Linked DNA regions of Homo sapiens: all the other regions are reported to be linked to region 1. The links are microRNA targets in miRTarBase. Many come from high-throughput screens and were not tested one by one. Region 1 holds a microRNA gene; each other region holds the end of a gene's coding sequence.
Evidence for each region. The annotated mature microRNA hsa-miR-196a-3p reads CGGCAACAAGAAACUGCCUGAG and lies in region 1 at 1,680-1,701, opposite strand. An mRNA with a match to its seed (bases 2 to 7 or 8) in the 3' UTR can be bound and repressed. Matches are read on the target gene's strand: a 7mer-m8 pairs with bases 2 to 8, a 7mer-A1 pairs with bases 2 to 7 and ends in A, and an 8mer does both.

Region 2: the mRNA of CUL4A is a reported target of hsa-miR-196a-3p. Seed matches in the 3' UTR shown: 7mer-m8 at 3,085-3,091 and 8mer at 3,882-3,889.
Region 3: miRTarBase lists LFNG as a target of hsa-miR-196a-3p. The part of its 3' UTR that is shown has no 7-base or 8-base seed match.
Region 4: the mRNA of CENPO is a reported target of hsa-miR-196a-3p. Seed matches in the 3' UTR shown: 7mer-m8 at 3,629-3,635.
Region 5: miRTarBase lists MRPS21 as a target of hsa-miR-196a-3p. The part of its 3' UTR that is shown has no 7-base or 8-base seed match.
Region 6: the mRNA of GPR75 is a reported target of hsa-miR-196a-3p. The part of its 3' UTR that is shown has no 7-base or 8-base seed match.

Annotation. Positions count from the first base shown.
Region 1 is chr12:53,988,652-53,993,499 of GRCh38, reverse strand. MIR196A2 (microRNA 196a-2) reads right to left here and starts at 1,762; the gene lies at 1,653-1,762. It overlaps HOXC10 (homeobox C10), which reads right to left. Exons shown (of 2, transcript NM_017409.4): 2 at 3,221-4,331. The coding sequence ends at 4,054.
Region 2 is chr13:113,262,339-113,267,186 of GRCh38, forward strand. CUL4A (cullin 4A) reads left to right here. Exons shown (of 20, transcript NM_001008895.4): 20 at 1,149-4,770. The coding sequence ends at 1,244. It overlaps MIR8075 (microRNA 8075), which reads left to right and starts at 582; the gene lies at 582-661.
Region 3 is chr7:2,526,201-2,531,048 of GRCh38, forward strand. It overlaps LFNG (LFNG O-fucosylpeptide 3-beta-N-acetylglucosaminyltransferase), which reads left to right. Exons shown (of 8, transcript NM_001040167.2): 6 at 44-209; 7 at 636-721; 8 at 946-2,229. The coding sequence ends at 1,012. MIR4648 (microRNA 4648) reads left to right here and starts at 874; the gene lies at 874-945. RefSeq lists enhancers at 2,169-3,143, 3,144-4,117, 4,549-4,698 and silencers at 3,149-3,208, 3,729-3,828.
Region 4 is chr2:24,817,101-24,821,948 of GRCh38, forward strand. CENPO (centromere protein O) reads left to right here. Exons shown (of 8, transcript NM_001322101.2): 7 at 570-741; 8 at 2,254-4,848. The coding sequence ends at 706. It overlaps ADCY3 (adenylate cyclase 3), which reads right to left. Exons shown (of 22, transcript NM_004036.5): 20 at 4,417-4,540; 21 at 3,624-3,748; 22 at 2,069-3,014. The coding sequence ends at 2,832. Among named protein-coding and RNA genes, the nearest start is that of CENPO, 26 kb to the left of the region's middle.
Region 5 is chr1:150,306,867-150,311,714 of GRCh38, forward strand. It overlaps MRPS21 (mitochondrial ribosomal protein S21), which reads left to right. Exons shown (of 3, transcript NM_031901.6): 3 at 1,182-2,113. The coding sequence ends at 1,362. Among named protein-coding and RNA genes, the nearest start is that of PRPF3, 12 kb to the right of the region's middle.
Region 6 is chr2:53,849,015-53,853,862 of GRCh38, forward strand. It overlaps GPR75 (G protein-coupled receptor 75), which reads right to left. Exons shown (of 2, transcript NM_006794.4): 2 at 3,898-4,848. The coding sequence ends at 4,120. The region is part of intron 1 of GPR75-ASB3 (GPR75-ASB3 readthrough); the gene reads right to left. It overlaps MIR3682 (microRNA 3682), which reads right to left and starts at 191; the gene lies at 108-191.

The sequences.
Region 1 (4,848 bases):
ATCAGGGACTCTATCTCCAAGCCAAATGCTCCTGAGCACCCAGTCCCTGCCTGGGACACGCTTTGCCCCAACTGACTGTGTGCCTGGGGCAGCCTGAAGACTCAAAGGCTGCTAGGAGCTCCCAAACTAGGGGAATCCCTTGCCTGCTTCCCACCAGCTGGCCTGACTCTCTGGAAACTTCCCCATTTCCCTGGGAGCCATAGAGAGGTTTGAATACTTCTCTCCAAGAGAAGAAATTTTTTCTCTCACAAAGGGATGGGGGACAGACAGACCAACAATCCAGCTAGGGAGACAGGAAATTCTATTCCCATTTTCTCCTCCAGCTTCCTTGGGAGTCAAAACAAATATGTTCGCATAAGAGAGGGGAAAAATAAATGTGTATGCGTATAAATACATACAGGGTATTTAAGAGAGCCTAGGGGAGACAGAAACAGAGCCCTACACTCATACAAGGTCACATATATCCCTCCCAGCAGATGACTGTGAGAATATAGAACTCTGTATATATTTTGTTACAGGGACATAATTTTGTTTCCCTGTCTAGACGTTTATAATGTTTTAATAATCATAATAATTTCAAAGTAAGAGAACCAAGAACCTGACCTTCTTTTGGCTTCTCTTCCCCAGTATCTCTGAGAACAGGGGTGTATCTCCTCAGTCTCCATAACCCCTCCCCCATTTATTCCCCCCCCCCCAACTCCGCCCGCAGGCAGGCAAAGAAACCTCTTTTGAGAACTTTCTCTGTAGCAACCAGGGCCAGAATTGAAGAACCAAGGGGGAAAGGATGAGAGGAAGCTTTGCAAAGTTTCACACTGCTCAGATTTTCCTCTACCCCATTCTCCTCCCCTCCTCCCCCTGGCATCAGCCAACAACCTTTCCACCAACATAGCAATGGTGGGCACGGGCAGCCTCTGTTCACCCAGATGTTTCCACATAGTGCAAAGACAGGCAGCTGCCTGACAGTCACAGCCACAGAAACTGAGGCCTTCAGGCCACAGACGACTAAACAGAGACCAGAGTCAGGTTTTTGCCCTGATGTTTCCCAGTTGCGTGCGTGTGCGTGTGTGAGGGGTTCTACTTGGACTTTGATGGCTTTCCTCTAACCTACCAACACCCCAAACATGTCCTTCCCCTGGAGATGGAGCTATAGAAGGGGAAGGGGAAAGGGCTGGGCTGGCGCTCAGAGTTCCCCAACTCTTGGAACCTCCAGGTACCCCACTTTTCTAAGGAGAATCTTGAGCCCCAGTCGACTGGAGGTGGTAGGTGGGAGAGGCTAACCATTCCAGAGACCGTCTTCTCTTTCTGTGCTCCTCTTTCTGCTAATAATTCTGCCCCACCCTGCTGCCCAACTGAGCTGGCCCGCCAGGCCACCTCTTACTCAAACTCCTGAATTTCCTTGGAATTGGCTGGACCCTCTTTGTCTGTCTCCATCAGCTGGGCCCAGGAGACAATAGCTGCAGGAAAGACTCCTCTCCCTTAATCACAGGGATTGGGATAGGTTGAGAGGACGGCATAAAGCAGGGTTCTCCAGACTTGTTCTGCAACCCCACTCACAGCTTGTCCTCCTTGGTCTGCACCCACTTTGCCCTATCTGGGAGGGGGCAGTGGGGCAGTCCCACTGGGGAGGGTAGGAGTGGGAGAGGTGGGTTGGGGCCCTCGACGAAAACCGACTGATGTAACTCAGGCAGTTTCTTGTTGCCGAGTTCAAAACTCAATCCCAACAACATGAAACTACCTAAGCCACAGATCAGCTGAGCGAGCAGGGCGGGAGATTCAGCTTTGCATCTATCTGGAGGAGAAGGGAAGGGGGTTGGGGAAGGAAGAAATTCAGCCCCGTCCCCCTTTCCGCCCCCACAACCTCCCTAAGGACTAGAGAGTAGACTTTGGGTTGCTGGGTGGGTAAGGGGTCTGACTGCCTTCATTAGTTTCTGGTCTAAGCAAATTGCTCAGGAAAAATCTGGTGAAATGGGACCACTGGCGGCCAAATACCTGCCCCACCCCCAGCACCGCAGTGGAGCTATTCCCCTGCATCTGGCCCTGGCCCTGGGGGAAGCTGGATCTTCCTTCCACTCTGGAGCTGGGTCCCCTGTCTTGTCCATCTGGCTCTCCTGCACTCTCCTGCTAGACTCCCTCTGATCCTCTCCCTCTCAGCTCGGTTTAGGCTTCTCAGCGAATGTGGGTAGCTGAATCATAGCCCTGTGCTCTGGAGCCACTTCCAATCAGGCCACTTGCCTGGCAAAACGTTACAGCCAGGGAGCACAGGGAACAAGAGGCTGGACGAGGCTCACATCCAAACCAGCGAAAAGCAGGAAAACCTAAGCTTCAAGCTTCAACCCTCTGTACTCCTCCTCCCCCACCAACAGACGACCAGACTGAGCAACACCTAGACCAGAGTGTCGACTTCGAGGAGACCCAAAGTGCCCGAAAAGATAAAGAAGCCAAAAACCATCAATTTATCCCTTTAACTGTGGAACCCCCATGGCAATGGGCCCGGGAGGGAAGGAGAGGGAGCTCCCAGTCGCTGCCCTCCGCTGCCAGCGGCCACTAGGAAAGCCTGGGTTCTCGGCAAGCACGGATGCCCTAAACACCTTCCTCCAGGCTCTGTCCGCTGCACGCCGGACACCTGGGGACACCGCTCATCCCCACTCCGCCGCCAAGAGAAGAACAAGAAACCGCTTCTCTTACCTTGTCGCTGCCTCCTCCTCCTGCTGCTCCTGGCGTTTCTGTTAGCTGCTGTCGAGGTTGGGGGGGCTGAGCTCCTCATGCCCCTCCAGCGGTTAAGTTTATTCCTTTCCTTGGATGGGTGGGGGGCTCTTGGGGTGACCCCCAGCAGCAGTGGGGTGCGCCCAGCCCAGCACCCCAGGCAATCAGATCCGTCTGCTCCTCAAGATTGCAGCTTGCTCTCTGCCTCTTTCCCTCCTCCAGTCACCTTTAAATGCATCTTTTACTGCAGCACCACATTATATTTGCAGATCATAAAATCCACCTCTCGCGCGCACCAAGACCGTCCTGACATTACTGTTTTATGACCTTGACTTATTGTGGTCACCTGGATAATATTTAAATCAACGTTATGGTCTCTCACTTACATTAAACCCGCCAAGAGACGTTCTAGAAAGGCTCTAGGAGATGAGTCAAACACAAAACACACACATCCACACACTCAGCCTCTTCGGGGGAGGGGTGTTGCTAAAAATCACTAAAAACAAAAAACCATCCATTTGAGGATTATGATTCTGGAAATTTATTAGGTTTTTTTTTCTCCATTAAGGAAGCTACATGCAAAAGATACAACATACAGAATATCTTTAAATAACACAACTCCCAGACAGGGACAGGACAATATTTGGGGGGGGGGGCATTCTGTCTTTGCTTTGCTATGTTCTATTTTTAATTTTTTTGTTCCTCTGGATGAAATTTCTGAGATGTTACTAGATGGGGGATGTGGGGGTGCTAGGAGGGGTGGGAGAAAAGCAGAAAGCAGTACAAATACGAGACTTCAAGCAGATTCTTAGAGCGACTGGGAGGTAAAGACATGGAGAGGGTTTGGTGGAGGCTCTGGGTGCTACGACAAACACACGAACACTAGCCGAACTTTCCAAAACGTCTATTAGTCTAAGGAGGAAATGCAGCAAGGAAGGAACGATTCTGCCTGTGCTCTGCGAGATTACAGACCCTCTCTGGTTAATTTTTTTCCTTTTTTTCCCCTACAAGCGGATGGATTCGATCTTAACTTTGCATGGAGAACAGAATGCTGTGTGTGAGTGCGTGGGTGAGTGAGGGCTTGACACACACACCAGCCACACTCCCACCCCCATCTATGAGGGCACACACCACACCCCACATCCCGGCACCCCATTTCTCATGCTTTAAGTGGAAGCATCTTCGCAGCACGAACCACAGGTCCCTTGGAAGGAGAGTCTGAGGTCTTTGCCTTTTTTGCAGTCGCATTGCATTTATACTCAGGGAGGAAAAAAAAATATATCACCAGGCACAAAGGGAGGAGGGGCGGGGAGAGGAAGGAGCGGGAAGGGAGGAGGAGAGGCCGCGCTCTCAGGTGAAATTAAAATTGGAGGTCAGTTCCCGGATCCGATTCTCTCGGTTCATTTTCTTGAGTTTCATTCTGCGATTTTGAAACCAGATTTTGACTTGTCTGTCTGTAAGGTTAATGGTCTTGCTAATCTCCAGGCGGCGCTCTCGCGTCAAATACATATTGAACAGAAATTCTTTCTCCAATTCCAGCGTCTGGTGTTTAGTATAGGGGCACCTCTTCTTCCTTCCGCTCTTTGCTGTCAGCCAATTTCCTGTGGTGTTTTCTGCCTTTATCTCCTCTGTTAAAAATAACATTATTTACATAAGTATCCCTCGAAGTCGAAAACCCTCTCAGCGCTGCAGCCTTTGCCAGCCTGCTGTGGGGTGGCTGAGGGAGCACAGGGGAGCTGCTCTTGCCCCAGGGGCCTGGCGGTGGGCTCCTCTTAGGCTCAAGGTTCTTACAATTTCTTTGGGGTTTAGACTTAGGGAGATAAAGGGAGGAAGTTCTTGCCTCCAAGCATTTATTAAATTTAAATTACCCAAGTCCACCTTAATCTAAAAGATCCTGAGTACCCTGGCTTTCCCCCAGCTGGCTGACCCTGGCAGATTCCCTAAACCTTGCCAGATCCCCCCTTCTCTCTGTTCCATTCCAGCTCTGGAAAAATCCAACCAGATGGAAAAGCATTTTCCAGGCCCCAGACCAGAGCAGAGTCCACCCACAGACCAGAGAAATTCCCAGAGAGCTTTGACCTGTTTCAACTCAGTGGAGGGACTTTGTTCCAGGATCTGTGGCCAGAGGCCACTGCAGTGGTCCCT
Region 2 (4,848 bases), not on the chromosome of region 1:
AACTATGTAAATACACGAGAATAAAACTACAGGCCAGGCGCACTGCCTCACGCCAGCGATCCCAGCACTTTGGGAGCTGAGGCAGGCGGATTGATTGAGCCCAGGAATTTGAGACCAGCCTGGGCAACATAGTGAGACCCCTTCTCTACAAAAAATAAAATTAGCCAGGCATGGTGGTGTGCAGCCTGTGATCCCAGCTACTGGGGAGGCTGAAGCACGAAGATTGCTTGAGTCCAGGAGGTGGAGGCTGCAGTGAGCTGAGATCGCACCACTGCACTCCAGCCTGGGCGACAAAATGAGACCCCATCTCAAAATAAATAAACAAAATAAAATACACTACTTAGGCAGAAGCATCCTTTCAAAGGATAAAAGTTGCCCCAGTAAGACATGTTGAGATTTTCCTTTCAAATAAAAATGTGTCACGTGATCGGGTCTGCCTCACTTATACGTGCCCTTGCTGATGGCAGATGTCGGATCTGCCTCGCTTATACGTGCCCTTGCTGATGGCAGATGTCGGATCTGCCTCGCTTATACGTGCCCTTGCTGATGGCAGATGTCGGATCTGCCTCGCTTATACGTGCCCTTGCTGATGGCAGATGTCGGATCTGCCTCGCTTATACGTGCCCTTGCTGATGGCAGATGTCGGGTCTGCCTCGCTTATACGTGCCCTTGCTGATGGCAGATGTCGGGTCTGCCTCGCTTATACGTGCCCTTGCTGATGGCAGATGTCGGGTCTGCCTCGCTTATACGTGCCCTTGCTGATGGCAGATGTCGGGTCTGCCTCACTTATACGTGCCCTTGCTGATGGCAGATGTCGGATCTGCCTCGCTTATACGTGCCCTTACTGATGGCAGATGATGTATGTACATTTCACAAGTTTCACGTTTCCCTCAGGAAACCACACTCTGACCATAAACTCACATGGACGCTTTTTTTATCAAGAGATAACGTTAACTTTGTCTTTAAAATAGAAAGTTTTGTTCATTTCATAAATATGTGTATAATTATAAATGATTTTCATATAAATATCTATTTGTATATATATTTCTATAAGTATAGTTACATACTTCATGCATATACCCCTTGTATGTAAATGTTTGTAAATTTAATGCCATTGTAATTAGGGGGGTTTTATTCTTCTTTTTTAGCCTGGAGATTTGAAAAAGAGAATTGAATCTCTGATAGACAGAGACTATATGGAGAGAGACAAAGACAATCCGAATCAGTACCACTACGTGGCCTGACGCATCTGCAGACGGTTCCCCTTCATGAAACACTAGAATGTACCCTCAGAGCAGGAAGCACACCTGTGCCATTTCTGGGACTCTGATTGATCCAGCTGTGGACATTGGAAGGCGAAGGAAGGGAGGTGGCTCCTGGGTCATCTTTCACAAGGCTCAAGACTTCAACCTGCAGATGTATCTTTTTCCCTCCAGTTTTTCCTCTAGTTCTTTTAGGCATTTAAATTGTTTCTGTTACTCTGTGCAAAATAACTTTGAGATTGGACAAGAAGATGTTACTAAAGAGAAGTTCCTTTAAAAGGTCTTGTTCTTGTGTCAAAAAGCTGCAAGTTTGGTTTGTTCTCGTGTGTGATCATGAGTGCACAATGAAGAAGACCCTAGATGCTGCATTTTTTAGCTCTGAAGATTCCTTAGGTATCCCTGAAGACAGCTCGCTCAGATGATCAGCATTTAGAGTGAAAACAAGGGCCCTTCATGGGTGAACATTAGAAAGAGCCAGGGTTCAAAGCTGGCGAATGGATGACGCACCCTAGCCACTGGCCCCTCTCTGTTTCATGTATTTCCAAAAGTTGTAAACTTTGATGGCTGATTTTTCGTAAGTCAGGTTTCTAAGTGAGCTCCCTGAGGTGCCAAGGCCATGGTGTCCGCCCTGCTGCGTCTGTTCGTCAGCTGAGTTCCTTGTGAATCTCTGTTTTAGGGTTTGGGGCTAGTGTGTTTGTGTTTCCATTCTAAGATTGAGTCTGGCAGTCCCTGTTTTTTTGCATTGGGGTAACTGCTCTTTGATTTTTTTTAATTGCAGTATTTGTGTGATTGCAATAATAAAGTTTGGTTTGGTTTTTACAGTCATGCGCAGGGACGATCCTTGTTCTCTGCTGTAAACTGTAAAAAGTTTATGGAGACTTAAAGTCTTGATGTTGTGAAGCAGAGGTTATTTTGTGGAAAGATTAAAAGGATTTTGTTGGTACCTGGTTTTGTGTTGTGTATATATACATGAGGTTGAACAGTGAAAGGAAAGTTCAGTAGTGATGTTAGAAGGGTAACTATGACAAAGATACTTTTGAGATAACATTTAAAAGTACTTTATATTTTACATAATAGCATGTTTCATTTTGATTAAAAGCTACCAAAGGAATTTTGATCATGGCATAAGTGTTTAAAGCAATATTTTCTGGAATATACCAAGTTTATATAATTTGATTTTGTGCTAAATTATTAAGAGTCTCTTTTTGAAACATGCGGGTTTGAAATATGACACCTTGTGGGTTTCCATATTAAAATCCTCACTCTTTAATTGTCATTTCTATCTTTGAAAATTTTCATTTATGAGTTCCATGATATGTGGTCTAAGAAAGACCAAACAGATTTCTATTTTTTTTTTCTTATAAGTTCGTTGTGTCTAGAGATTGTTAATATTGTAATTTAATGTAGACTTACTTTGAATAAAATTAGTTTAATTGGCCTTAAAATTACATTAATAAAACTTTGTGATATGCAAATGACACATTCTTCATAACTCTTTAGCAGCTTTGACTACTAGTGCACTAGACAGAAGTCAGAGCAGGGAGCACCTGTCCCCTCTCAAGTGATTATTCTTTCCTGGCCACCTCTACCACAAAATACCAGTGGGGCCAGGTAGTGACAAGTGGGTCTTTTTTACTTGGACGATTCGTTGTGCTGTGCCTTTGTTTCATTTGAGCACAGTGGCTCACGCCTGTAGTCCCAGCTATGGGAGGGCAAGGTGGGAGGATCGTTTGAGCCTGAGTTCCAGACCATCCTGAGCACCATAGGGAGATCCTGTTTCCATTTTAGTTTATTTATTTTTAATTGAGGTGGAGTCTTGCTCTGTTGCCCAAGCTGGAGTGCAGTGGTGCAATCTCAGCTCACTGCACCCTCCGCCTCCTGGGTTCAAGCAGTTCTCCCACCTCAGTCTCCCAAGTAGCTGGGATTACAGGCACCCGCCATCATGCCCAGCTAATATTTGTATTTTTGTAGAGACGGGGTTTCACTATGTTGGCCAGACTGGTCTTGAACTCCTAACCTCAGGTGATCTGCCCGCCTTGGCCTCCCAAAGTGCTGGGATTACAGGCGTGAGCCACCATGCCCGGCCTGCCTGTTTCTGTTTTATAAAAGAAAGGAAAATCTATTTATATCTATTCTCTTATTTAGCAATATTTAATGTTTTATTGTTAAAGGTCAGTGTGGTAAAACAAATAGTATAGAAGAAATCATTGAAAAAGAAACAGCACTTAGACAGAAATGCTGTAAAAGTGGAAAGGAGAAGGTGAAATTACTTGCAGGTTAGATGGTTGCATACCCAGGTCATCTAAGGAGCAAATGAAAATCTGTGACTGAAGAAAGAATTCACCAAGTTAACCAGACACAAAATTAACAAAAACATCAGTAGCTTTCCTATAAATATAGGCTATAATGGAGGGTCATTTTTTATTTTTATTTAGAGACAGGGTCTTAACTGTCACCTGGACTGGAGTGCAGTGGCATGATCATGTTTCACGGCAGCCTCTACCTTCTGGGCTCAAGCGATCCTCTCTTCTCAGCCACCTGAGTAGCTGGGCCTACAGGTGTACATCACCACGCCCAGATAATTTTTATTGTATTTTTTATAGAGGCAGTGTCTTGCTATGTTGCCAAGGCTGTTCTTGTACTCCTGGCCTCAAGCGAACCTCCTACCTCAGCCTCCCCAAATGCTGGGATTACAGGCATGAGACACTGCACCTGACCAGAAGTCATTTTTTCAATAGCAACCCCCAAAAAAGATAAAATACCTAGTAACAAATAGGGAAACACCTATGTGAAAGGTATTATAACATTACTAAGGAACACAGGCCCTGAATAAGTGAAAGTTCTGTTGATTCTCACATTTTGCTATACAGTATCTTAAGATGTAAAACCTTCCTTTAAAACACAAGCGGATTCTAAAGTTAAAACAGAAAAGCAAATATGCCAGACTAGTCAAATTGTTTTAAATTCTGCTGTTTTTAGAACATTGTAATTGAAACAGCATGATGCTGGCCCTTTAAAAAGATTCCTGGAACAAGAAAGTCCACAAATAAGCCAAATACACAGGAACTCGGCGTGGCACAAAGGGGCCGTGTGTGATCAGGAACTGGAACTTTGCAACAACTACCCATGCTCAGAAGTTTGGGCCACCTTGAAAAGAGAAAAGTTGGATTAGACTCCTTTTTATACTAAGGGAAGTTCCAAGTGGTCAAGTATTTACGTGTAAAAAAATACATATATATGAAACCATAATCATAAGATACTTTTTTTGTAAATTGACTATTATTGTATAAATTTATAGAGTATAAAGTGATCTTATAAATTATGCATACATTGTGGACTAGTCAAGCTAGTTACATCCATCACCTCAAATACTTAACATTTTTGTAGTGAGAACATCTGAAATTTACTCTTAGCAATTTTGAAATGTACAATACTCAATTTTTGACTGTATTCACCATGCTGTACAATAGAACTCAGAAAAAGAAAAATATAGTCCTCCTTTCTAAGATTTTTGGACCCGTTGCCCCTTTATTTGTGTTTTTCCACTAAGTGATCTAGTGAATTCACATCGATTTTTTTAAAAAAG
Region 3 (4,848 bases), not on the chromosome of region 1:
GCTCCCGCCTCTGCTCACTGGTCTGGGCCCTTCCCTCCCGCAGCGGGGGTCACTTCATGAATACGGCTGAGCGGATCCGGCTGCCTGATGACTGCACCATCGGCTACATCGTGGAGGCCCTGCTGGGTGTGCCCCTCATCCGCAGCGGCCTCTTCCACTCCCACCTGGAGAACCTGCAGCAGGTGCCCACCTCGGAGCTCCACGAGCAGGTGCACCATCCTCCGGGCCCCGCCAGGACTCCGAGAGCACAGGAAGGGACGTGTGGCTGCCGAGAGGGGCGCAGTGGGGTGGGGCACTGTTCTAAACAGGGAGGCCAGGCAGCACTCCACTGTCAGCCAGGGGGGGTCACTCCTGCCATGAGCTCAAAGCTGTTTATGGCGGGTTGTTTTCCTGCCGTCTCTTCTCTTCACTGTGATGCGCCTACTGTGCGTATTTTGTCCACGCTGGCAATGCAGCCAGCCCCAGCTGGTCCCCAGTTTGGGACCTTATTCCTGGGGTGTGCAGGGCAGGTGTCCTTCCAGGTCCAAGGGAGGCCAGGGCAGGGCCGTTGCCTCACTCAGGGCTGTGTGGCCAGCCTGGGGCGGGGCCCAGGGATGTCGGGCCCCTCCCGGCATCACTCCGCCCGCTCCCCACAGGTGACGCTGAGCTACGGTATGTTTGAAAACAAGCGGAACGCCGTCCACGTGAAGGGGCCCTTCTCGGTGGAGGCCGACCCATCCAGGTAAGGAAACCCCGGCCCAGATGGGCTTGCGTAGGGTGGCCTAGGGGCGTCAGGGGGCCTCGTGGAGCTGCAGCAGGGTCTCTCTAAGCGGCATGACTCTACATAGAGGTGTCCCCCGGAGTCCTGCTTGCTCGGGGTGGGGCCGCCAGTGTTGTGGGACTGCAAATGGGAGCTCAGCACCTGCCTGCCACCCACGCAGACCAGCCCCTGCTCTGTTCCCACAGGTTCCGCTCCATCCACTGCCACCTGTACCCGGACACACCCTGGTGTCCCCGCACTGCCATCTTCTAGTGGCCATGGCTGAGACCCAATCCCTGGGCGCCCCTGGTATCCAAAGGGCCCAGGGACCCTGTTGCGCTGCCCTGGCCTCGGCATTCGAGGCTCCCCTAGGGCCGTGCCTGTGCGTGTGCGTGTGCGTGTGTGTGTGTGTGTACTGCATGCCCACCCGGGTAGCAGGCTGCTGGGCAGTTCTGCTCTGTGGAGGGGCGGGCACCAGCGCCACTTATGTGCCTCTGCTCCGAGGGCCAGTGGGCTGCAGGGCCTGCTTGGAGGAAGGATTTGTGTGTCGGAGGCCACTCCGAGGGCAATTCTGTTAGGATTTTTGGATCTTTCTACAGCTACGGGGCTCCGGGCTACTTTGCAGGGATGCGATGCGTAGGTGCCTTTCTCTTCCTGCTGACCACAAGCTCTGTGCTGGGGGTACCTGTGCCCTGAAGTCCTGGCCCCTGTGTCATAGCCCCAAGTACGACTCACTGAGCCATGCTCATTGCAGGGGAGGCTGGGTCTGGGGGTGCGTGACCCAATCCCCTTCCTCCTGGCCTGGACGCTGTGGCTTAAGAGTAACAGCAGCCACCGCCCAGTTCCAGTGGCCCCACGAAGCCCCCAGTGGCTGGCTGTCCAGCTGGGCAAACAGTGGCACCCCTCCCAGCTCTTCTGAGTGGGGAGTCTTCCAGGCCTCCTCAGAGGTCTTCCCTTTGCCTCCCCAGGACAGGGTGAGTCAGAGCTCAGCATTTAATCTCCTCTCCAAAGTAGAGAGCAAGTCGCCCACAGTGGGCGTGTCTGTAAATATTGTGACAGTATTTTTTTACTGTGCTGTTTTTTTTGAAAGGGGATGGGTAAAAAGTAGGGTGTTCTTGTTTTTTGCTTGGGAGGGTGGGGGTGGGGGAGGGTCTTATTTTATCTTATCTTTTCTGTGGATCAGAAAAAACAGAAGCCAAACTCGGGGTCATCTTTGTTTTTAAAGCTGAAGTGGGACTGTCTGGCACTCTGTGTATTTATGCGTTCCAGCATCTGGAACCTCCCATCCCTGCCCTCCTCCTGTGTAGCTGCCACCTCCCCGCTGGGCCCAGCATGGCTCACCTGTCCCGTGGGCTGTGTTTCTTGTTGTTTTTCTCTTTGCAAAGACATAGCTAGGAAAGCGAATGATAAGGGAAAAGTTCTCAGGGAATTGAAGTGTTGTTGCTATGGTGACGTCCTTTTGCTGTGAATAAAGGTGCTCTTTGCAGCAATCCTGGGGGTCCTGGTCTTGGCTGGAGGTGGGGCCTAAGCCCCAGGGCAGCCAGGGTCAGGAGAGGCACACAGGTGAAGGGGAGGCTTGGCCTTGGGTGCACCGCATGGAGCAGGTAGATAGGAAACGCTTAGAGACAACTATTTTGGAACGAAACCTGGCGTCACTATAGCTGCCTGCTGGTGACTACAGGTGCGGCCCACCCAGGGTCAGGGTGGTCGCTGGAGCGTGAGCCCTGTGCTTCCAGGAGGAACAGGTCTAGGATGCTGGGGGCTCTAGGTCCCAGCCAAAAGCACAACCCCAAGGCTCTGGCCTGGTCTGGCCACTGGGGAGCCCAGCCCCTGCAGGAGGGACAGTGACTCCTGTGACCGGGCCTGGGGCCTCCTTATCCAACTTCACTCCTGCCACGAGCTCACAGAGTCCACATCATCGCCTCACTTTGCAGGTGGGGAAACTGAGGCACGGAGCAGCTGATGCCCAAGGTCCAGCAGCCATGCTGGTGGGCTGGGGAGGCGCTCAGACTCCAAGCCAGGCAGGCCGTGGGTCCGGCCGCCCCACAGCTGGTAATGCTGCACCTCCCTCTCCTGTGATGTGGCCCCAGGCCCCGACCCCGCTCAGGGGTGGTGGGAAGAGTCCTGGAGAGCAGGAGCAGTGCCGGAGCCCCCACTGCAGCTGGTCCCAGCCCCTGCAGAGATCCAGACGCTTGTTTTTTAAATACAGCAGCTCTGCGGTGCTTTTCCTTCCTCAAATCCAGCCTTTGAGGGTGACTGAGTAGGGGACGGGTGCTGCAGCCTCTGCGGGGATTCCCTCCCCTCACCCTCCTGGCAGCCCCGGGGCGGCTCACTTCCTCTTCACCATGAGCCCCCACCCCTTCCCTGGGGCTTACACCCTTGGCCTGGCACTGCCCTGGCCGCGCCCCTTGCAAGTTCCTGCTCTGGCCTGACCCTGCTTCCCCCGACCCCAGGGCTCCAGGTCCCCCTCCTGGTGCCTCTGCACCCCCCACTCTGCTCCAAGGAGACGACACACTGTGAAAAGTGCCTCTCTATGGGGGGGTGCCTTGCCCTCCCCCGTCGCTGCCCCCTCCAGAAGAGTGCTGACGTGCTGAATGGGCCTGCAGAGACCCCCTTACTCTAAGCCTGGCTGGGGGCTACCCTGGCCTTGGGGGCGGCTGGCAGGGCTGTGACCCCACCTTGGCCTTGGACGGTCCTGAGTCAGCAGAGCAGCTGCCTGGGGGGTGTGGACAGTGATGGGGATGGCGGGAGGATGGAGGGCCCTCACCGTCACGTGGCCTGACCCCCGTCTGGGTGGCTGTGGTCCTCCCTGAGCACCCACCATGTGCCCACCCACTTCTCATAGGACGGCATAGGCCCCTCTTCTGAACGAGGAAGCTGAGACTCTGGGGTGGGGCGGGGGGGTCGTGACGGAACAGGCTGCGGGCAGAGGCTGCTGGCCTCCTTCCTGCCCGGCTGACTCAGAGGCTTGGGGCCTTCTGCCCTGGCCCCGACGCTGTCCCCGCCTGCAGCTGGCATCGCCTCCCCACAGAGCTGGTGGGGCCCCGGGGGCAGAGGTGTGGCTGGACCCAGGGGTCGGACAGACCCATGGATACAGCTGTGGGGGCCCTGCCAGGGCTTGGGGAGTCCCCATTAATGTTCATATGTCCCTGTGTGTGGAGCGGGGTGGGAGTGGGGGCTAAGTGGGCATCGGGGAGAGCAGAGGAGCAAGAAGTGGGGTGGGGAGGAAGCCCGGCTCCTCCCGAGGCCTCGACCTCTCCATCTGACAAATGGGAACAAAGGTAAATGCAGTCCCCGGGTGCTGGAGGTCAGGGGGTGTTTTGGAAGGTGCACAGGACAGCGCATCTGGCCCCTTCCTCTTCCAAGCTGAGGGAGGGACGTTTCTCTGCCCTCAAAAGGGGAAGCAGGCCCAGCAGTGTCTTAGGGGAATGAGGCAGCCTGACCTCTTCCATCCACCGCCCCCCCACCCCCCAGAAGGTGACTCACCCGGCAGGGGAGGTGAAGTCATTCCTCCCCCAGGTACATTCTGGGGACAGCTGTGTCCCACCCACCAGTGGTGCCATCACATCAGATTAGAGGTCTGGTCAGAAAGGGGCCTGGCTGGTCCCTGGGGCTCCATGTCCCCCCAGTCTAGCCCAGCCAGGCCCCCTTTCCCAAACTTCTGATCATTAATGGGGCTTTCAAAACAAGTAAAACTGCAACCACAGGGGCTGCAGGGCGCTCAGCGAGGGTGGCAGACCTCAGCCGCCACCCCTGCTTCCGTTCTGCCAGGCGAGTGCCTGGGGAGCCCCAAGGCTGCTTGGGGTCTGGGAGGGGCTGCTAGGGTGGGGCGCCTCCCCACTCAGTTGAAAGGAACTTCCCTTCCACTGGGGCCATCAGGGCCAACTTCCTGGAAGAGGTGCCTCTGAGCTGAAGCAGGAAGGCTTTGTCAAGATGGAGTAGGGAGAGAAGGGGCCTTCCAGGTCTCAGCACAGCCTGGGCAAAGGTGCAGAGGTGGGATCCACTGGGAGGACTGGAAGCCTGGGAAGGAGGGCAGGCAATGCAGTTGGGTCTCTTGATCCCCCCTCCCCAATCACAGACAACTAGGGCTCTCCACAGGCTCAGAGGGG
Region 4 (4,848 bases), not on the chromosome of region 1:
CAGGAAAGACACCTAATGATAAGGCTGAGTCATGGGTCAGTTATGGTGGATGGAGCCAGAAGACTCATTTCACTGTGAAGACAAATGGACATGACACGTCAGCACACACTTACTCCTCCCTACGGAGCAGTCTCTAAATGGAAATCCTTCCAGACTGGCTGAGAGAGAGATTTTTTGGTGAACCTGTTTCAGTTAAATGTGACATGGGCAATAATGAAAAATTGGGTGAAATGTTTTTAGGAGGCAGAAATTTTGAAGCTGCCCCAGATTTCACACCATCGGTCTTTGATTTCTCTGCGCAGTTAGATTCCAGTCCCCAGTCTCTAGATTGCATTGGTCCAGTAAGGGGCAGCCTTAGTCCAGACCAAAAAAAAAAGCTGTATGGGTCCAGTGGGTCCAGAATATCAGTGATCCAGGTTCCGATTCCCCCAGCTGCACTGAGTGAGATTGAATGTCAGTGATCCAGGCTCCGATTCCCCCAGCTGCACTGAATGAGATTGAATATCAGTGATCCAGGCTCCGATTCCCCCAGCTGCACTGAATGAGATTGATGGAATCTTTCTTTTTAGGAGTGGAAGTATTATCCACTTCATGGGAGGAGCAACGAGCATCTCATGAAACTCTGTTCTGTACGAAGCCCTTGCATCAAGTGTTTGCCTCATTTACAAGAAAAGGAGAAAAGTTGGATATGAGTCTGGTCTCCTAATAGATTGTTTTCACTGCACTGGGAGCACATCAGAGGTAAGTAACCAGTACTGAAGACAGTACCAGGTGGGTAGTACTGTCTGATGAAGGGTACATCACCCTTCTGATGAAAACAGACACCTACCTGTTCATCTGGATGGAAGAGCAGGTTTGAGTATAGACACTGGCATTTTTGAACAATTCCCATGATCACCTGGTCCCTTCTTAAAATGCTCAAGATGTTTTTTAAAGGTATTAGTTGATCATACATTTTAGTTGAAAATCATTTGTGGGGCAATAAAAGCCATTTTTTGAAAAAGGTGTATCACTCAAGAAGTACTTATGGAAAAATATCAAATTATTGAGGGCATTAACTCTGGGAAAGACCAGGCAATTAAGTTGTCACAGTAACTGCTACTAATTTAATGCCAGGAATAGAGATGCCAAAAATCCTAAAATTTTCAGAAAGGGCTCTCACAGAAATGTAGCACTCCACTCAAACTGCAATAGCTTGATTCTGTTGAGAAACACTGATCTAAATAAATGGAAAAATAACCCACATTCACTAATGAAGATAATAAGGAAGACCCAATATTTTTTTTTTTTTAAAAGGAAAGTATTTTTAGCTTTTATGAAAGCTTTAAGTAATTTTTCCTCATTTTCCTGTTTGAAACTTTTGAAAAGGAAGTTCTTCAGTGTTTGTTTGGTTAGGCGCAGTGTATTCTAGGCCACTGCTTTATAAATATGGTGTGAGAAAGCAGTAGGATAAAATAATCAGAGTTCAGTGTGTCTCATATTTTGTTTCCTAAAAGTTTAGTAGAGCTGTGAATGTACTAGGAAGTCCCCTCTGAAAAAGCACAGTTAGTTAGTTAGAAATCTGCCCATTAACTCAGGGGGACTCAGGCGCCCCCCGGGTCTTCCCTCTCCTGCAGGCTCTCCGGTTAGTGTCCTGATTTGCCGTAACCACGGGCCTCTGACCTGCTGGCACCTCTGGTTCCTTGGCGTGTGGGTCACTCACAGATATGAAAACCTGTGTCTGGCTGACCAGGTTCTCCTGTAGCCCTCCCTTGCCCAGGCACAGATAGGAGTCATGACTGGCCCAAGGCCACGTTCAGACTTAACCCTGCAATGGCCACGAAGTAACCTCCGTGTGGGAGAGCTCCAGGAACAGTGCAGGGGATTAAAGCCAGCTTGGAGTACCCTTTAGAAGAAAGTTTAAGAATAAAAGAGACAGGGCCAGGCAGCAGGCGTTCCGGGGTACAGTGAGCTATGATGAGACCTTCAAGCTCTTGCCTTCCAGGCCTGTGGTGGGGACCAGTGGCATGAGTCAGCAAAGTACCAGCACTCCTCAGATAAGTGATATTAACAGAATTTCCACAATCACTTTCAAGTTGAATAAAGCTTTTAATAAAACAGTCTTGTTCTTTATCAATACCTGTAAATTCTCTTAAAGCAGTAGCAAAGGCGACTGTAGCAAGAGCTCAAAAGGCAAGGCAATATCGGAAAGTGTATTTAACAGAAGATTAAAAATATAAATGTAGAAGATCTGTTTATATATTTTTCTTTCAGAAATAAATCCCCCCTCCCCTGCCAGGTGAAAGGAAATATTGCACTTTCTGTTCTCATGACTAAGGGGACAGGAGTTCCAGAAGAACCTTTCAAGATGATCAGGAACACCAGGACGAGGGCCGTCTCACCTCACTCGGACCACATGGAGACCTCCCTTCAAAATGGGAGCCATGTCCTGCCCCACCAAGCCCTGTCTGAAGTGGAGCTTCCCCGCCTGTGCTCCCTCCACAGTCCCGGAAAGCCCAGCGGCAAAGGCAGCTTTGTCCCAGCTCTGCCACCCTCCTGCTCACAGTGGTCAGGGCCCCTCAGGGGCAAGGACGGCAGGGATTGGAACGAGGGCTCTGGAAGGACTGTTCAGCCCTATGCCTAAGACCCCTATGCTGGGGACACTACAGGCACACACAGGAATAGCAGGGCCACCCTCAGAGCTCACACATCCACGAACAAATGAAGGCTGAGGAGGTTTCTAAACCTAAAGTCCATGAGTGTGCACTTCAATCCAGGAAGGTCGGGACTTCCTTCAGTTTCAAAAAATAAATTCTCCCTTCCGGTTTGGACTGTTGCAGGCTCGAGGCCATTCAGGAGTTGTCCACCACCTGGTGGGGCAGTGTGACAGAGGGGCCATTGGGGAAGGTGGCTAGCTTATCCCGCCCCTTCAAGAAGAAGGTCAGCAGCTCCCCCTTCCCCTTCACAAAGATGGGGCCTCGCCTCACAAAGCGGAAGCCGTACTCTCGGAGGATGACTTGGGTTTCTTCTACCACCTGGAGAGGGAGGGGGAGCAAGAACGTGGCGTTACGGGGGGAGCCTAGACTGAGGGCGGGTGGGGGCTTTGGGTGGTTGGAGCCGAGCACTGATCCATGGGTCCCAAGCAGTACGGGACACTCCCCAAACCTCCCAGGGCCAAGCCCTTCCACCCGTGGCGAGCAGCGGGTGGGAAGGAGAACCCTGGAGTGACTGGCTGGGGGCCTCCTCTCATCCAGAGACTTCTCTCCTAGGATGGCCATGGTCACCTGGGTGGCAGCACTGTTACCTGGAAACTGCCACTGCCTGCTCTTCTGTCCCTTTGCCCCTTTCGTGGAGCTTTTCTGCCAGACGCCACTGAGACAGATCACAAGGTATTAGAAGGTTCATACCCAAAGGTAGGCCATATGCATCTAGAACTTCAGCCCAGATTTTGTGGATGGGTGGAAGTGTTTCTTCCTGTGCTGAGGCTAGCTATTGCAGAGATTCTTTTCCACTTGCCCCACGTCTCTGCCTCTGGACTTACTGTTCAGGGCCAGGGTGGGAGGCAGGGGCACGTGGGAAAGCACTGTTCCGGTTTTGTTCTCATGCCGAGTCTGAGCACGTGCCAGCTGTGCCACTGGACATACCTGAATGTTGCCCATGACCCCCGTGGACTCCATCCTGCTGGCTACATTGACTGTATTGCCCCAGATGTCGTAGTGTGGTTTCCGGGCTCCGATGACCCCAGCCAGAACCCCGCCTTTGTTCATGCCTAGGGTAGAGGCATAAAGTTCAGCACAGCCACAGGCCACACCTTGTTATGGGCCTCAGAAGCCATCTCCTCTCCAGACCTGTACCACAAAGCTCCTAATGTAACACATCATTGTCCTCATTCAACTTGGCTGTATGCTATTGGAGGGTGGAAATCACATCTCCTGTTTATCCGTGTGCTTGTTAGGTGTCAGCCGCCACCCCCCCCCCATATGCAGATTTACTCGGCATGGTAGTGGCCAGCTTCTAACACAGCTGGTATTTCAAGTCTCCTGGGACCTCACTCAGGAATGATACCCCCTCAGTAGAAGCAGCAGGTGATCTTAACTCCTTTCAAAGAGCAGGCCTGTCTGGGAAGCCATGTCCTCAGCAGGCACAGCAACCCCTCTGGAAATGGATCACAAACTCACTTCTCAGCCAGGCAGGCCAAGCTTCTATTGTAACAGTAGGCACAGTATAGTCGGATCATCACATCAGCTGGGTTTTTGGTTTAGTCATCTAGAGTCGTCTGGACTAAAGGTCTTTCAGGTCTCCTTGCCCTGTGAGTGCGTGAACCTCCCCACCCGAATTGCCTCAGTTGTCCTGAGCCTCATGTCTCTCCTGGTGGTGGGCCAGGCCCCTGCATGGGAAGGGAGCCTGCTGCGGGGCAGGCCAGCTGGGGGTGCTCACCTATGCGCAGCATGAAGTTATTGAAGGACTGGTTGTTGATGTTGGTGAGCGTATCCTTCATGGCCAGCGCGAAGTCGGCCAGGTCAGCCAGGTGCTGCCAGCGCTCTCTCTCGGACTTGTCTTCCTGTGCCAGGGGACCGTGGAGAAAGTGTCAGGGGCCGCTCACTGCAGCAGCCTGCTCTGCTGCCTTCCCTGGCAGTGTTCTGGGGGTGGATTCCCTACACCTAGATGTTCAAGGCCTTACTTTTCCTCCCACAAAGGAGTCGCAGCCACGCTAGCTCTGACTTGCCACTGTGACAAAGTTCACGTAGCAGGTCTAGGCAAAGACTGGGCAATTGAGCAGAGGAGACGGACCTGTGAGTCTGACCACGAGGCGGACCCCTTCACCTTGGCTGGGCCTGGTCCTGGTCCTTAGGTTTTGTCAGGTTGTCC
Region 5 (4,848 bases), not on the chromosome of region 1:
CCCCAGTTGAGGTCTCTGAAATGCCCCATTAGTTGAGAATCATTGCTGTAGGGAGACATGTTCTTCAGGTACTGTATCATATCCCTCAGGTGTGTTGTGGTAGAGTAGATTTGAGAACATAACTTTGACTATAAACTCTCCAAGAGCAAGGGCCATGTAATTAATTGCTTTTTTATTTCCCCAATTTTTTTTTTTTGAGACAAGAGTCTCACTCTGTTGCCCAGGCTGGAGTGCAGTGGTGCAATCTCAGCTCACTGCAACCTCCACCTCCTAGGTTCAAACACTTCTCCTGCCTGCCTCCTGAGTAGCTGGGAGGGACTATAGGCGCCCGCCATCATGCCCAGCTAATTTTTGTATTTTTAGTAGAGACGGGGTTTCACCATATTGGTCAGGCTGGTCTCGAACTCCCGACCTCAGGTGATCCACCTGCCTCGGCTTCCCGAAGTGCTAGGATTACAGGCATGAGTCACTGTGCCCAGTCCTTTTTTTTTTTTTTTTTTTTTTCCTTTGAGTCAAGGTGTCACTCTGTTGTCCAGGCTGGAATGCAGTGGTAGGATCTCAGCTCACTGCAGCCATGAACTCCCAGGTTCAATTGATCCTCCCACCTCAGCCTCCTGAGTAGAGGGGACTACAGGCATGTACCACCATGCCTGGTTAATGTTTGTATTATTTGCAGAGACGGGGTTTTGCCGTGTTGCCCATGCTGAACAATATTTTTTTTCTTTTTTGAGACAGGGTCTTATTCTGTCACCCAGGCTGGAGTACACTGGTGCAAACACAGCACACTGCAGCCTCAGTCTCCCCTGGGCTCAAGTGATGCTCCCACCTCAGCCTCGTGAGTCGCTAGCACTACAGACACATATTACGAAGCCTGGCTAATTATTTTTATTTTTTGTAGAAACAGGGTTTTGCCATGTTGCCTAGGCTGGTCTCAAACTCCTGGGCTCAATCTGCTCACCTTGGGCTCCCAGGGTGGTGGGATTACAGGCATGAGCCACTGCACCCGGCCCACAGATTCTTATTGAGGCCTTTGTAAGTAGGCAGTTAATGCTCTATTGCCACCATTTCCCACTGTATTTTTTATAAATACCAATTGTTTGGTCAATCGACTTCTATTTATGAAACTGGAAAAGAATAATGATGATCCCAAATGTCTAACCTCATTGCTTGCCTTTATACAGAATCCTCACTATGGATGGGCTCATTGAGGACATTAAGCATCGGCGGTATTATGAGAAGCCATGCTGCCGGCGACAGAGGGAAAGCTATGAAAGGTGCCGGCGGATCTACAACATGGAAATGGCTCGCAAGATCAACTTCTTGATGCGAAAGAATCGGGCAGATCCGTGGCAGGGCTGCTGAGGCCTGTGGGTGGGACACCCAGTGCGAAACCCTCATCCAGTTTTCTCTCCATCTCTTTTCTTTGTACAATCCCATTTCCTATTACCATTCTCTGCAATAAACTCAAATCACATGTCTGCAAGAAGGCCTCCAAATATAGAAACAATCCCATTAGTCAGCAGTGGACCCTGTCTTTTATTAAGTGAAAGAAGAAACTGAGTCTGAAAGTACTCTAGGAGTAGAATGGTATTTGCCAGGGACTGGAGGAGGGGGCAGTGAGGAGTTATTGTTTAATGGGTACAGAGTTTCAGTTTGGGCAGATGAAAAAGTTCAGGAGACGATGGCCTGGCATGGTGGCTCACGCCTGTTATCCCAACACTTTGGGAGGCTGAGGCGGGCGGCTCACTTGAGGCCAGGAGTTTGAGACCAGCTTGGCCAATGTGGTGAAACCCCATCTCTACTAAAAATACAAAAAAAAATTGGCCGGGCGTGGTGGTGCACGCCTGTAATCCCAGATACTTGGGTGGCTGAGGCAGGAGAATTGCTTGAACTGGGGAGGAAGAGGTTGCAGTGAGCCAAGATCATGCCACTGCACTCCAACCTGGGCGACAGAGTGAGACTCCATCTCAAAACAAAAAAACGGAGATGGATGATGAATGGTGATGGCGGTTGCTCAAAAAGTTGAATGTACTTAATGCCACTGAACTATACCCTTAAATGGTCACGATGGTAAATTTTGTGTTTTACTACAATAAAAACTTTTTTGAAAGTCCAGGAGAAGTAAGGAATTTTTTTTTCTTTTTTTTAAGAGGAAGTCTCGCTCTTGTCCCCCAGACTGGAGTGCAATGGTGCAGTCTAGGCTCACTGCAACCTCCGCCTCCTGGGTTCAAGTGATTCTCCTGCCTCAGCCTCCCCAGAAGCTGGGACTACAGGCACCTGCCACCACGCCCAGCTAATTTTTGTATTTTTAGTAGAGACGGGGTTTCACCATGTTGTCCAGGCTGGTCTCGAACTCCTGACCTCAGGTGATCCGCCCACCTCGGCCTCCCAAAGTGCTGGGATTATGGGCATGAGCCACCATACCTGGCTGGTAAATTTTTTTTTTTTTTTTGTAGATGGAGTCTCGCTCTGTTGCCCAGGCTGGAGGGCAGTGGGACAATCTCAGCTCACTGCAAGCTCCGCCGCCTGGGTTCACGCCATTCTCCTGCCTCAGCCTCCCCAGCAGCTGGGACTACAGGCACACGCCGCCACGCCCGGCTAATTTTTGTGTTTTTAGTAGAGATGGGGTTTATCTGTGTTAGCCAGGATAGTCTCGATCTCCTGGTCTCGTGATCCCCCTGCCTTGGCCTCCCAAAGTGTTGGGATTACAGGCGTGAGCCACTGCGCCCGGCCGGAAAATTTTTTTAATGTAGTGAAATATGTCTACCATTTCCTACCCAATTTTTTTGAATCCCCAAGCAAAATCTTACTGAGAAAGCATCTATTACTTTTTATTAAACTGTTCCATGTTAGGTAGAGAGGAGAAGATGCATGTATGTATTTGGAATAAATTCTGCTTCTGAAAACACCTATCAACCAGACTAGAGTGCTGGAATCCTTGCCCAAAGAAATTCTTAAATCTACCCTAATGTTCATTCCTGTTTTCTGTCCTTTTAGTTTTCCTAACAGAGACTAAGAGAGGGATGGTGGAGAAGAAATAAAGCAATAGATGGGTGGGACTCAGTAGATAGTAGGAAAGAGGGAATGGAGCGTTGAGAGAGAATGGCACAGAGCCAGAAATACCCACAAAGCAGTGCTTCTCAAAGTGTCAGATCAGCAGCATCAATTTCACCAGAGGGATTGCTTGAAATGCAAATTATGGGACCCTACTTTAGATCTTCGATATTGGAAATTGAGGTTGGAGCCCAGCAATCTATTTTCACAAGCCTTGCAGGTGATTCTGATGCCTGCTAGAGTTACAACCACTGCCCTTTGCAGTACTCAAAGAGACTTCAAGTGGAGGTTCCCACCATCACTGCCTCTACCCAGCAGTCACTCCTGATTATTTTACTCTTGACAGCTGCGGAAACTGACCACTGTGGGAAGACCAGCTGCTCTGCTTTTTCTCCTGCTGTTTCCTCCACCATTGGTTGGCTGACAGCCGTGTTGCTATTATTAAGAGTCGGTGCCAGGCCGGGTGCCATGGCTCACGCCTGTAATTTCAGCACTTTGGGAGGCTGAGGCGGGCGGATCACGAGGTCAGGAGTTTGAGACCAGCCTAGCCAACATGGTGAAACCCTGTCTCTACTAAAAATACAAAAAAATTAGCTGGGCGTGGTGGTAGGCGCCTGTAATCTCAGCTACCTGGGAGGCTGAGGCAGGAGAATCACTTGAACGCAGGAGGTGGAGGTTGCAGTGAGCCAAGATCGCGCCTGGCGACAGAGCAAGACTCGGTCTCTTTTAAAAGTTGGTGCTGGCCAGGCACAGTGGCTCACGCCTGTAATCCCAGCACTTTGGGAAGCCGAGGTGGGCGGATCACAAGGTCAGGCGATCGAGACCATCCTGGCTAACATGGTGAAACCCCGTCTCTACTGAAAATACAAAAAAGTTAGCGGGGCATGGTGGCGGGCGCCTGTAGTCCCAGCTATTTGGGAGTCTGAGGCAGGAGAATGGCGTGAACCCGGGAGGCAGAGCTTGCAATGAGCCGAAATCGCGCCACTGCACTCCAGCTTGGGCAACGGAGCGTCCCCAAAAAAAAAAAAGGAAAAAGAAATAGATCTGCTCCTTTCCCTCATTTTGGAGAAAATCTGTATACAGGCTGCCTTCAACTTTGTTCCCTTTATACAACCTAGTCTTAACAAACAAGATATGACACTTCTGAGTCACCTTTAAATCTGAATCTGAGGCCGGGCGCGGTGGCTCACGCCTGTAGTCCCAGCACTTTGGAAGGCCGAGGAGGATGGATCACGAGGTCAGGAGAGCAAGACCATCCTGGCTAACACGATGAAACTCCGTCACTACCTTTTTTTTTGTTTTTTGTAGACGGAGTCTCGCTCTATTGCCCAGGCTGGAGTGCAGCGGCGTGATCTCGGCTCACTGCAAGCTCCGCCTTCCGGGTTCACGCCATACTCCTGCCTCAACCTCCCGAGTAGCCAGGACTACAGGCGCCCGCCACCGCGCGTGGCTAATTTTTTTTTTTAATTTTAGTAGAGACGGGGTTTCACCGTGTTAGCCAGTATGGTCTTGATCTCCTGACCTCGTGATCCACCCGCCTCGGCCTCCCAAAGTGCTGGGATTACAGGCGTGAGCCACCGCGCCCGGGAGGCTGAGGCAGGAGAATGGCGTGAACCCCGGAGGCAGACCTTGCAGTGAGCCGAGATGGCGCCACTGCACTCCAGCCTGGGTGACAGAGCGAGACTCCGTCTCAAAAATAAATAAATAAAATAAAATAAATCTGAATTTGGTCTTTAGTACATTTTAATGATATTGAGCCATAATATAGTGTCATCTACCACAGTGGTAAGGCAT
Region 6 (4,848 bases), not on the chromosome of region 1:
TGCATCACAGTAAGCATCAAGAGAACTAATTAACATATCCTGATAATTAATCATATTCAACTGAATTCTCATTACTTTTAGTTCTCATTTTAGCCCTTATGAAGAGATAAGTTATATATTTCTACCTCCACCTGTATCATCATGACACCTTTATTATGATAACACAGGTAGAAGTAGACATATATAACTTACGAAGAAAGAAGTTATGTCTCTATAGATATAGAGATATAGATACGGACGGGGGCTATGAATCGAGCCCACTATGTATTTCATGCAATTTATAACAATAATTTTTTTAACTTTTCTTTTGGAGATTATTTTTTGATGAGCATAAAGAGACAATACCTCATATGCACCTGCTTAGTTTTCTTTGTGCTGTAATTTTTACCTCCCAATGATGGGCCTCATGCCAGTCAAATCATCTCAAACTCAAACGTCACACAGAAAACCTGCCATTTTAAATTTTATAAATAGAAATTACTTTTGTGTTAATATTTTATTGTATCACATTTGAAATGCCTAGCCAATTTTTGTATTTTTAATAGAGACAAGGTTTTTTGCATAGCCAAAAAAATAGATATATGCCTTTAAAAATGTGATGCTTGATTAATGTTGTCTTCATTATAAAGCTGTTTGGCACACTGGGGTAAATACCAGGTTTTGAATTAAGACAAAAATCTAATTCCTAATTTGCCACAATTCTTTGTACGATCTTGGGAAAGAATATTAGATTTCTTAATTCTTTGTTAAAAAGAGATAATAGGCCAGTGCACTGGCTCACGCCTGTAATCCCAGTACTTAGGTAGGCCGAGGTGGGTGGATCACAAGGTCAGAAGTTTGAGACCAGCCTGGCTAACTTGGTGAAACCTTGTCTCTATTAAAAATACAAAAATTAGCTGGGAGTGGTGGTGCGTGCCTGTAGTCCCAGCTACTCGGGAGGCTGACACAGGAGAATCGCTTGAACCTGGGAGGCGGAGGTTGCAGTGAGCCGAGATTGTGCCACCGCACTCCATCCTGGGCAACAAGCATGAGACTCCATCTTAAAAAAAAGAAAAGGGAAAAAGGGAAGGAGGGAGGGAGAAAGGGAAAGAAGGAGGGAGTAGGTAGGCAAATCAGTCTAAAAGGTGAACTTAAAAACAAAATAATTCGAGGCTGCCCCTGGGTGTGGCAAGAAAAAAATTTAGAAGAAAAAGAAAACAAAAGAAAATCTATGCCTATTTAAATCTCAAAAATAGAAATAACTGATCAATACTGAAAGGTAACAGTTATAAGATAAGGTTGAGCAGAGTTCTAATTGAATATCTATTCTGTCTTCTCTATACCTCTCATGACCCCTGTATTTGGGGAGAGCTGAGGGAGGAAACTATAAATTAAATGCCTTTCAGCTGGATGTGGTTTCTCATGCCTGTAATCCTAGCACTTTGGGAGGCCGAGGTGGGTGGATTACTTGAGGCCAGGAATTCAAGACCAGCCTGGCTATCATGGTGAAACCCTGTCTCTACCAAAAATACAAAAATTAGCCAGGAGTGGTGGCGGGCACCTGTAATCCCAGCTACTCTGGAGGCTGAGGCAAGACAATCGCTTGAACCCGGGAAGCGGAGGTTGCAGCGATCTGAGATCATGCCACTGCACTTTAGCCTGGGTGACAGAGTAAGACTCTGTTTCTACAAAAAAAAAAAAAGACTTTTACGCAAAGGAACAAAGTACCTTCCAATCTGCAATAATAACTCTTGAATATAACAATTTATAAAGATAGGTGTTGTATATTGATGCTCATCTTGTGTGTCTAACATTTAAAAACCTAGTGAGTTCAAATACTAACTGTATACTGAAAATATTTTTACAATAAAATATGAGTTCACAGTTGTTATGCTAGGAATCTCAGAGCATATAGTAAAATTAGTTTCAGGTATAGAAATACTTAAATCTATTTTTTCTTTCTGCCCATTTCCACTTTAAGATTAATGGGAGAGAAATAAAATGATTAGTTTGAAAATAGATTATCTTGAGAATTTTTCTACCATAATAATAAATAAAGACAAAAAAGAAGTCATTTCTAAATAGTTACTTGAATACTGTCAGGTGGTTAGTAAACTCTTCTCACACAGAAGGAAAACATAAATCAAAACATTCCCAGTCTTATCTGTAAACCTTGTTAAGCAATAATAAATATTGCCCAATGCATGACAGGAGTCCACACTGTTTTCCACAGAACACCGAGATGATTACCGCAGTGCCTTCTCTCCTGGGAACAGTGCACCTCTACCATAGATGCAGTCCTCTTCACTAGGCTTCTTGAATAAGATCATTCAGAAACAATTCACTTTTGGGCCAGTTGGGGTGGCTCATGCCTGTAATCCCAGCACTTCGGGAGGCCGAGGCAGGCAGATCACCTGAGGTCAGGAGTTCAAGACAAGTTCAAGACCTGTCTCTACTAAAAAATACAAAAATGAGCTGGGCATGGTGGCACACGCCTGTAATCCCAGCTACTCAGGAGGCTGAGGCAGGAGAATCACTTGAGCCCGGGAGGCGCAGGTTGCAGTGAGCAGAGATCATGCCACTGCACTCCAGCCTGGGCAACAGAGCAAGACTCCCTCTCAGGAAAAAAATAAATAAATAAATAATTCACTTTTAACAAGCAAAAATATATTTCTTTTCTTTCTTTCTTTCTCTTTTTTTCATTTTTTTGAGATGACATCTCGCTCTTGTCACCCAGGCTGGAGTGCAATGGCACGATCTCAGCTCACTGCAACCTGTCTCCCAGGTTCAAGCGATTCTCTTGCCTCAACCTCCCGAGTAGCTGGGATTACAGGTGCTTGCCACCATGCCTTGCTAATTTTTGTGTTTTTAGTAGAGACGGGGTTTCATCATGTTGGCCAGGCTGGTCTCGAACTCCTGACCCTCAGGTGATCCACCCGCCTCAGCCTCCCAAAGTGCTGGGATTACAGGTGTGAGCCACCATGCCCGGCCCAAATATATTTCTTTTCAAAAGAATTGTAAACCTACTCAACTGACATAAAACATGTCTATAATAAGAAATGGCAATAATCATAATACTATATTCTTAGTTGACTGTCCTATGAAAGAAAAGTACCTAATACCTGTGTGAGTGTTTTTGGTAAAGACAGAGTTATCACCTTTTCTGCCTTAAGAATATATATATTTCTGGCTAAGCACAGTGGCTCATGCCTGTAATCCCAGCACTTTGGGAGGCCGAGGCAGGCGGATCACCTAAGGTCAGGAGTTGAAGACCAGCCTGACCAACACAGAGAAACCCTGTCTCTAATAAAAATACAAAAATTAGCCGGGCATGGTGGCATGCGCCTGTAATCCCAGCTACTTGGGAGGCTGAGACAGGAGAATCACTTGAACCCGGGAGGTGGAGGTTGCGGTGAGCCGAGGTCATGCCATTGCACTCCAGCCTGGGCAACAAGAGTGAAACTCCGTCTCAAAAAAAAAAAAAAAAAAAAAAAAAAAAAAAGAATATATACATTTCCTTTAGAGACAGGGTCTTGCTGTGTTGCCCAGGCTGGACTCATAATCCCGGGCTCAAGTGATCCTCCTGCCTCAGCCTCCCAAGTAGCTAGGACTACAGGTGCATGCCACTGCACCCAGCTAACAATATATTATTTATTCAAATCAACCTGCTACCAACAAGGTGTAGTGTTCCCGATTTCAACACTTCAAAAAATCAAAATTTACAATTCAATTAATAAAAATAACACCTCAGCAAAAATCATATTTTCACATTCTTTAAAAAAAATCCAGTCAATACCTTATTTTGAAGTCACATAACACTGACTCAAATCATGATAATCGGTTGACTTTCTACTTTAACACAGTAGCTTCATTCCTGGCATCTATTTAAAGGCTCGGTACAAAAGACTGAGGCAAAGAGCAGGGTAAAAAATCTAAAACTTTCACATCAAATCTTAAGATGTCAACAAACTACAAAGCAAATCAACAGATACTGACACATCAGATGAAAGAAAACCATAACTGCCAACTTTTCAGTTGAATCTTGTAGGTTTTGATCCGCCACTGATCTCAAGTTAGAATAAAGTCCATTACTATCAGAAACAAAAACTGTTTACATAAGATCCTATAGCCTCCATGACTTTAAACGGAGGGGACTGGAATCTGCTTGGCTGAAGTGCTGTCATATTCCTGCACTAAGTCATTAGTGGTGTGATAATGCATGGCAATATATGAATTGGCAAATCCAAAAGAGTTTACTGGCTGTAAGTTACATGGGCTGCTCTCCTCCTGGGAAGGGCTGCTGTTATAGATGCTGTAGTAAGGTTCAATCCGAGTGTTGATGGGGGTCGAGCTGCTCTGACCACAGTGTTGATGTCCAGCAGAGATCTTGGGACTCACCATACTTTCTTTTGAATGACTTGGGCCACAAGCCTGGTCCACAAATTTCTTCTGTGGCTTTGGAGATAACATGTAGGCAGAGTTTGTTTCATGATGGGAGGATTTGTTTCTGTTGACTTCGAGGTTCCCTTTTCCCATGGCTCGAAGTCGAGTCTTTTGTTTGCAGCAGAAAAAACCCAGGCCTATGTATTGGAGGCACCAGAGCACTTTCCTTCTCAGCCCTGCACTGTTCCGAGAATATATAAAAGGGTTTAATCCTGACTTGAAAAATATAAGAGTAAATCCAAACAATTCAAACTGGTAAAGAATGAAGCTCCCATTGCTGGAGAGAACCACCTGTACCAAGGAAATCCCCAGTGGAAGACAGCACACCAGGACTGACAGCACAATGATCACACAGGTGACCACGGCTTTGGAATCCTTGGCAGTGGAGAGGTTGATGGCTGATACGAGCTGGAGTCGGCTTGCTGC